Regions from separate parts of the Homo sapiens genome. Here regions 1 and 3 are each linked to region 2. The links come from fine-mapping of genetic effects on gene expression. A gene starts in region 2. Each other region holds a variant in brackets. All regions are shown on one strand. Distances are from middle to middle.

Region 1 (2,765 bases), 44 kb after region 2:
TGTGATAATAGATTCATATAAAATAATAGCATGTTCTGCCATACAAAGGAATGAAGCACTGCTTCATGCTCCAGCATGGATGAACCTTGACAACATTATGCTAAGTGAAATAAGTCAGTCACAAAAGACCACATACTGTGTAATTCCACTTACGTGAAATGTCTTGAATATGCAAATCCAGAGATAGAAAGTAGATAGTAGATTGTGGCTGCCAGGGGCTGGGGAGCTGGGACAATGTGGAGTGGCTGCTAATGGACATGAGGTTTCTTTTTGGGGTGATGAAATGTTCCAAAATTAATACTGGTGATGGCTGCATAATTCTGTGATTATACTAAAAATCAATGAATTGTACTCTTTAAAAGGATAAATTTCATGGTATGTGAATTATATCCCAATAAAGCTGTTTTTTAAACACACACACACACCCCTCCCTAAATATGCAGGTGGCAGTTAGATCTTCCAGAAATTAAAAGTGGCCTGAAAACATAAGTAACCTAGAAAACCTCTTAAAATGCAAATTTTAAATGCAAATCTGATCACATCACTACCCTGCTTAACAGGAATCTTAGGATAACATCCAAAATGCTTAATATGGCTTATAAGGCCCTGCACGATTTTTGTTCATTCTGTGTCTCCAGCCTCACCTCATGACATTCCCTACCAACCCATGACCCCTGGACCCTCACTCCATCACACAGCTCCACCCCTTCCTTCTTTTTTCTGGAAGGCCCCTTTCCCGTGGCTGTCTCACATGGTATTTGCTCTGCCCCCCAACATTTCCCACCACCTAACCCACTCTCTCTTCACCTGGTTCGTTCAACTTCAGCCTAAATATTTCCTAGGTATATTTTCTTTTCAAAGGAAAATATACCTACGAAAGGCTAGGCTAGGCCCCCTGTTCTAATACCCTTTCATACATCCCATTTGTCCCTTTGGTAATATTTACAATCTCTGAATTGAATAATTGTAGACAATCGCATGTTCAGTGCCTATCTTCCCAGGTAGACTGAGAGCTTCATAAAGGCAGAGAAAATGAATGGCTTCAGTGCCTGGCACAGATACAGACAAACAATAAATGTTCATCAACAGGCAGCCTAAACAGAATTTGGAGTTTCTAACAAAATCCTAGAGGAAACATAAGGATAACCACAGAGA[T/C]CGCTGCCATGGGGTTTCTGTCAATTTCTCAAACTCTGCAAGGCCTTGCTTAAACCTAATTTTGCAACCAGTGGTTACAGCTACCCACTCACCACAAAATTGCATTACCACAAGCAAGGAAGCAAGCAATGAAGGAAGACACCAACTGAGCACCTATCATGCACCAGGCACCAAGCCATGTGCTTTACATTTCATTTACCACCTTGCAATTTCTGAATAAATGGGAAGCATAGGGTCCCTAAGCAGCTCCAGCTGATTCAAGCTCCTGCTCCAGGTACGTGTTGTTTTATAAGCGTTTCTTTCAAAGAAGCTTCTCTTCACTTAACTCTACCCAGTGTGTCTGCTAAAGAAAAGAAAGCAGGACTATCCTGCCAATTAAACTGAACTACATGTGTGTAGAGAAAAGATAATCTGGTCTAGATAGTAACTAAAGTCCTGTAAGCCAGGGTTTCTCAGCCTTCACACTACTGACATTTGGAGCTAAATGATCCTTTGTTATAGGGGCTGACCTGCACATTGTAGGATGTTCAGCAGCATTCCTAGTGCCTATCCATCAGGTTACAGTGGCACTACCCCAAATGACAGCCCAAAATGTCCCAGGCATTGCCAAATGTCCCCTGGGAGGCAAAACTGCCACTGCTTGAGAACCCATACATGGCCTTACCCACAAAATGTCACTGTACTGACTCTCCAGTAGTGTTTCCCACTATCCCAGCCTAACTATGGTCTAGGGACTCCAGCTGACTGAATTAAAAGATGGACTCGCTGGCCTCAGAGAACTTACATTCCAGAGTGAAAATAAAATCAGAAACCAAGGGAAACAAGTAATGTGACTATGATCTTGGCGAGGAGCTTCAGAGCCTTAAAGGAGCAGTCACCTTGCCCTTAAGGTGAAATACCAAGGACCAAGGAGAGAAAAAATCTGCAGGAACCCCTTTAACCCAATGGGCAGGACTCCTGGTTTCACCTCTCTCCAAACAACCAGCTTAGATAAAAAGCTACGCTAAGCTCGCAGCACTGGGTGGCTTGTCTGTATGCTCCTGTGTACTTTCAAGCAGGTGAGTTCTTTGTTTTTTTTGAGACGGAGTCTTGCTCTGTCGCCCAGGATGGAGTGCAGTGGTGTGATCTAGGCTCTCTGCAACCTCTGCCTGCCGGGTTCAAGTGATTCTCTCGCCTGAGCCTCCCAAGCAGCTGGGATTACAGGCACCTACCACCCCGCCTGGCTAATTTTTGTATTTTTAGTAGAGATGGGGTTTCACCATGTTGGCCAGGCTGGTCTTGATCTCCTGACCTCAGGTGATCTGCCTGCCTCGGCCTCGCAAAGTGCTAGGATTACAGGCGTGAGCCGCTGCGCCCAGCCGCAGGTGAGTTCTTTAAATGTGTGCTCCTTAAAGACTACAGAGACAAAGGTGCACAGGCAAGAACAAAGTACTATGCCCGTTAAATTCACACACTGACAGGACTACACGCCCACTCTACTGTGAGGCTGGACTCCTTGGCTGGAGCCTACCATGTCTGAAAAAGCATCTTATTAGCATCTGCCTTTAAAGCTCACTCAAATGTTGTTTCATCTAAATAAACAAGGGAATCTTTTAAATGACAAATTCTAA
Region 2 (2,765 bases):
CAGATGCCAAGGGCACAGACATCATATCATGGTGGGGAGATTTTTCATAATTTTCAGTGGTGCAGATGACGCTCTTCCCATGTCTGGGGAATTGCCTGCCCAGAGTCTGGGAGAGACACAAGGCCTGGGAGCCGCTTTCCTGGCCTGCCGTGCAGCTGAGGCACTGGCACGCAGCCTAAGCCAGGCACACTTGCCCATGCCCTGGAATGGAGAGCCAGTGACCCAGAGTAGTGGGGATGTGAGCTTCTCCTTCTCTGGGGGTGGAGCAATGGCAGTGAGACCAAGGGGCTGGGGCAGTGGTTGAGCGATGCTGACAACAGGGCTGATGGCACCTAGTGTTTGGCAGTGGCAGTAGCATCCTCTTCAGACCTGTTTATGGTGTGATTTGAGGCATTCTTCCTGGCTGTGGACCCCACACAAGATTCACTAGCCCTCCCAGTGACTCTAGGATCTACCTTCAAATGTTTGCATAAATTTCCTTTTAAGTCAGCCTGAGTCTGTTTCTGCTGCTTTACAAAGAAGACCCTTACTGAATCACCACTAAGTGCTGGGGGAGAGGACACAGAGGACAGAGGGCCCACATATTTGTTTCTCAACACATTAAAAGGGGGTCTTTGGGCCAGGCATGGTGGCTCACACCTGTAATCCTAACACTTTGGGAGGCCAAGGCAGGGGGATCGCTTGAGGGCAGGACTAGCCTAGACAACACAGAATCTACAAAAAAAAAAAAAAATTAGCCAGGGGTGGTGGTGCATGCCTGTAGTCCCAGCTACTCAGGAAGCTGAGGCTGCAATGACCTGCAATCTTGCCACTGCATTCCAGCCTGGGTGATAGAGACCCTGTCAAAAAAGGGGGGAAGGCAGGTGTCTTTGGATTCAAAACTGGAGTACAAAAAGTTAATAACAGACAATTTATTTATTCGCTGCATTAGAATGTGTTGTTTACTAACTTTTCTCATCTCTACACAAAGCCACTTCTCCTTCTGCTGTTCTTTGTTCCCAGCAGTTACTGGCCCAGAGTGGCACCCAGAGCAGGTACCCTAGACAGTGACTGAACTGTTCTGAAAAATCCAAGTACGAATTATTTGTCAAACAATACTCCTTCCTGGAAATATGTGCTAGGTGTAAATCAAAATCTCACCCAGAAACATCTAACACCTATGACAACTGTAAAATCCATGGAAAAAAAAAAGATATGCACATTTCTAAATGTGCTCCAGGCCAAAATCTCAATGTTAAATGGTGAAGCCATCCTTGCACAATTTCAAAAAGTTCCTGATTATGGTTCCTTCATAAGAGGTTCCTCTCTTCAGCTCTTCTTCCCTTCTGAAAAAAGAAAGCCAACTTTCCTTTCAAATACACACCCCAACCCGCCCCGGCATACACAGAAATGGGGACTGCGAGCAGAAGCAACATCGCTCGCCATCTGCAAACCAATCTCATTCTATTTTGTGTCGGTAAGGTTCTTTTTCTTCTCCTCCTTCATTTTATTTAAATCAACTGCTATTTTTCACCTAATGCATTTATATTTTAAGCTCCTTCAGATTAATTTTTAAATGTATAACATTATGAAAACTGCCTAAGAGGATAAGTTTCCTTTTTCCCCTGAGAAATAGACAATAAAAAAATAGCTGAGAAAAAGTTTCATATTAACCTTGAAAAGTCTCTTTGCTATTATGCTAATTGGAGACAATCTGACCAAAGGGTTGAAAATATTCTTAAAATCGTAGGTATAAGTTATCAATAATTTAATTATCATACAAACTTGATCTGCACATAGAAAGCAATAAATGATTATTTGCTGAATATTTTCAAAGAACAATTTCTATAAAAGTACTTTTCATTTAAGAAAAAAAAAACTGCCATGACTCCAATAGCCATCCCATAGTATATCTATTTTTAAAATTCTGTCTACTTCTGTTTTTTTATCTATGAAAGAGAAAGGATTTCCAATACATCTAGTAATCTCAGATTTGCCCACACAATTTGGATTATAGGGCAGGGAAGGGGGGAAAGTTCTTAATTTTTTCTCATCTGTGAAGAAATATATCAAAATGTTAATGGGAGTTATTTCAGGCAAAAGGACTATGGGTGACTTTTTGCTTCTACTTTTAATAACCTGTTTTTTGCTAATAAGTATATATTACTTTCATAGACTATTTTAATTAGCATTATTTTAAAGAAGAATTCCTGTCTTTTAGAGATATATTCTGAAAGATGCAGATAAAATGGCTGGGATTTGCTCTAAAATAATATGGGAGTGAGGGAGTAGGTGGGAGGAGAAAAGAAACAAGATTGGGTCGAAGCCATGTGATGGCAGGGGGTTGACTGTACTACTTCGCTACTTTGATATGTTAGAAATTTGAAATCTAATATAATAAAGCTTTGGGCTGGGCGTGGTGGTTCATGCCTGTAATCCCAGCACTTTGGGGGCCAAGGTGAGAGGATCACTTGAGCTCAGGAGTTCAAGACCAGCATGAACAACATAATGAGACCCCCATTTCTACACAAGAAAAAAAAATAGCTGGGCGTGATGGCACCTGCACTGCACCTGCAGTCCCACCCACCTGGGAGGCTGAGGCAGGAGGATCACTTGAGCCCAGGACTTTCAGGCTATAGGGAGCTGTGATTGTGCCACTGCACTCCAGCCTGGGCAACAGAGCAAGACATTTACTTACTTCTTACTTACTAGATAGAGAGACAGCTTTGTTTAAATGTCAAGAATTAGTTCTCTTCCTACTTTCAATATGGCTTTTTTGTTTGTTT
Region 3 (2,765 bases), 580 kb before region 2:
CGTGCACCTGTGGTTCCAGCTACTTGGGAGGCTGAGGCACAAGAATCACTTGAACCTAGGAAGTGGAGGTTGCAGTGAGCCAGGATCACACCACTGCCCTCCAGCCTGGGCGACAGAGTGAGACCCTGTCTCGAAAAAAAAAAAGAAGGAAAGAAACATCACTTTGTTCTAACGTAAACACAGCATTCTGTGAGAACCAATGCCTGTAATTTAAATCAGCCCCTCTTGCGGACACTTGAGCTGTCCTCCTCGGGGTGGGTGTTCATTTCAAAGCTGCCTTAGGACAGGAAACAGGATCAGTGGAAACCTGCCCCTTCAGGGGCCCCCGGACCCCAGAGGAGACCCACGGGGCTATTTCTGGAGCTGCCTGCCCCAGAGTAACTCCAGCTAGAACTCTAGGCCTAAAGGGAAAACATTACCCAACTATCTCCAAGAACTAAAATTATTAATTTTCTAAAAACAGATTAATTCAGAAGTTATGGAAGATTATTTTTAATTTCAAATCCCCAAGTGGTAATAGGCATTTTGTTTACAGTACTGATACTTAACTGTTTGTGAGGATTTGATTAAGAAAGGGTAATGGTATTGCACTTTTGATTTTTTACCCCCACCAGTTATTATAAAAAGTCCAATAATGTTCGCCTTTCCCCCTCTTCTTTTTTTGAGATGGAGTCTCGCTCTGTCACCCAGGCTGGAGTGCAGTGGCACAATCTTGGCTCACTGCAACCTCCGCCTCCTGGGTTCAAGTGATTCTCATGCTTCAGCCTCCCGAGTAGCTGGGACCACAGGTGGCACCAACACGCCCGGCTAATTTTTGTGTTTTCGTAGAGACGGGGTTTCGCCATGTTGGCCAGGCTGGTCTCAAACTCCTGACCTCAGGTGATCTGCCTGCCCGTGCTGGGATTACAGGCGTGAGCCACCGCGCCCGGCTTCTCCCCGTCTTCTTTATACCAGCTTTGCTATGGTATGAACACAAATCCCTACCAAAATAAGTACACTTTTCCTCAGTCCAGAGAAGGATGTCCAACTCTAAAAAGTGTTTTTTTGTTTGTTTTTTTACGATAACCAACATGAAGGATCACATTGCACATATGTCTCTGTACCCACATACACGCATATGCAGGGGTGCTTTCAAAATATTCAACACAAAATTGGACAAATGTAGAAGACACTTGAGACGGAAACCTTCCACAGTATGAGGTTTTTGTTTTTTGTTTTTTGTTTTTGAGATGG[A/C]GTCTCCTCTGTTGCCCAGGCTGGAGTGCAGTGGTGCGATCTCGGCTCACCACAACCTCTGCCTCCTGGGTTCAAGGGATTCTTCTGCCTCAGCCTCCTGAGAAGCTGGGACTACAGGCATGCACCACCATTGTGGAAGGAAAATAAAATAAGTAATAATAAAGTTAAAAATAATAAACATAAGTAATAGTTAACATTAAGTATAGGTTATTTAGAAGTTATACATAGGCTAAGAAATTTAAGCAGCCCCTCCCAGCATTGCTAACAAGTTGCAGCTATGAGCTTATCTCAATCTTCCAAGCTTATTGCCTGCCTCCAGACCCCCGCGTATTTCTGTAATTCCTGTTTTCCCTTACCCCGAAGCTCGAGCTGTCCAGCTTCAAAGTTGACTGGTCAAGATAACTAAATTATATGTTTTCTCAGAATTGTCACGTGTTAAATAATTTACTGTCTTTGTCTGAAACCTGTATCCTGCCTTGTTTTCCCTCCTCAAACGACATATAAGCAAGCCTGCTTTCTGTGTCCCAGTCGGCAGCCATTTTAGGCGTGGGCCTGCTGTCGGCCCGGGTACCTGAATTAAATAAAGTTCTCTTTGGTTTCCAAAGGTCTCTTTGTCTTTTCCTTGGCTGGAGTTTTATTGTAACACCATGCCCGGCTAATTTTTGTATTTTTAGTAGAGATGGGTTTCACTATGTTGGCCAGGCTGGTCTCGAAATCCTGACCTTGTGATCTGTCCGCCTCAGCCTCCCAAAGTGCTGGGATTACGGGTGTGAGCCGTCGCGCCCAGCCCACAGTATGAGCTTTTAATCAGTAAACAAATTTGGGAAAAGGTAATTAATTTGTGGAAAGGTTTTAAAAAATATATTAATTCTCATAATCAGTGACAAATTATTAGGACCACACTCCTGGAATGTGGCAACAGAGAGGGAAATAACACTTATTAAGCACCTATAATGTGTGACACACAATACTAGGTATTGTTTCAAAAGTAATGATTCATAAGAATTTAGTCTTGCTTGAACCTGGGAGGTGGAGGTTGCAGTGAGCTGAGATTGTGCCACTGCACTCCAGCCTGGGCGACAGAGTGAGACTCCATCTCAAAAAAAAAAAAAAAAAAAAAAAAAGAATTTGGTTTATCCTTCATAGCTGTAACTACATAGGATGGCTGTAAGCATTTTTTCTTTTTTTTTTTCTTTAATAAAGATGGGGTGTTCCTATGTTGACCAGGCTGGTCTCAAACTCTTGGCCTAAAGCGATCCTACCATCTTGGCCTCCCAAAGCGCTGGGATTACAGGCTTGAGCCACTGTGCCCAGCCAAGATAGCTATAAATGTTAAATGAGATCATTTTTTTCAGTGTCCCTAAAACAAGTTTCTATCAAAGTAACTAATAGTTATTATATTTGTTTCTCCGCTTGAATGTCTCTGCTGATAAATGGGGAGATTGTTAAGTCTGTAAACAATTGCTGTTTGCCTGTCTGTACTCAGTGCATAGCCTGGTGACAGATATATAATATGTAATAAATAAATGCAA

The links. PIP is the estimated chance that this variant, and not a neighbour inherited with it, causes the effect.
Region 1: its variant is the best candidate, but not a certain one, in a credible set for the expression of IGSF6 in whole blood (TOPMed, PIP 0.68).
Region 3: its variant is the best candidate, but not a certain one, in a credible set for the expression of IGSF6 in esophagus muscle (GTEx, PIP 0.61).

What each region holds. Positions count from the first base shown.
Region 1 is chr16:21,607,617-21,610,381 of GRCh38, reverse strand. The region is part of intron 1 of METTL9 (methyltransferase 9, His-X-His N1(pi)-histidine); the gene reads right to left. Among named protein-coding and RNA genes, the nearest start is that of METTL9, 9.4 kb to the right of the region's middle. The variant T/C (reference allele first, on the strand shown) is at 1,156.
Region 2 is chr16:21,651,223-21,653,987 of GRCh38, reverse strand. It overlaps IGSF6 (immunoglobulin superfamily member 6), which reads left to right and starts at 1,380. Exons shown (of 6, transcript NM_005849.4): 1 at 1,380-1,456. The coding sequence starts at 1,390. The region is part of intron 4 of METTL9 (methyltransferase 9, His-X-His N1(pi)-histidine); the gene reads right to left.
Region 3 is chr16:22,227,599-22,230,363 of GRCh38, reverse strand. The region is part of intron 2 of EEF2K (eukaryotic elongation factor 2 kinase); the gene reads right to left. Among named protein-coding and RNA genes, the nearest start is that of EEF2K, 23 kb to the right of the region's middle. The variant A/C (reference allele first, on the strand shown) is at 1,234.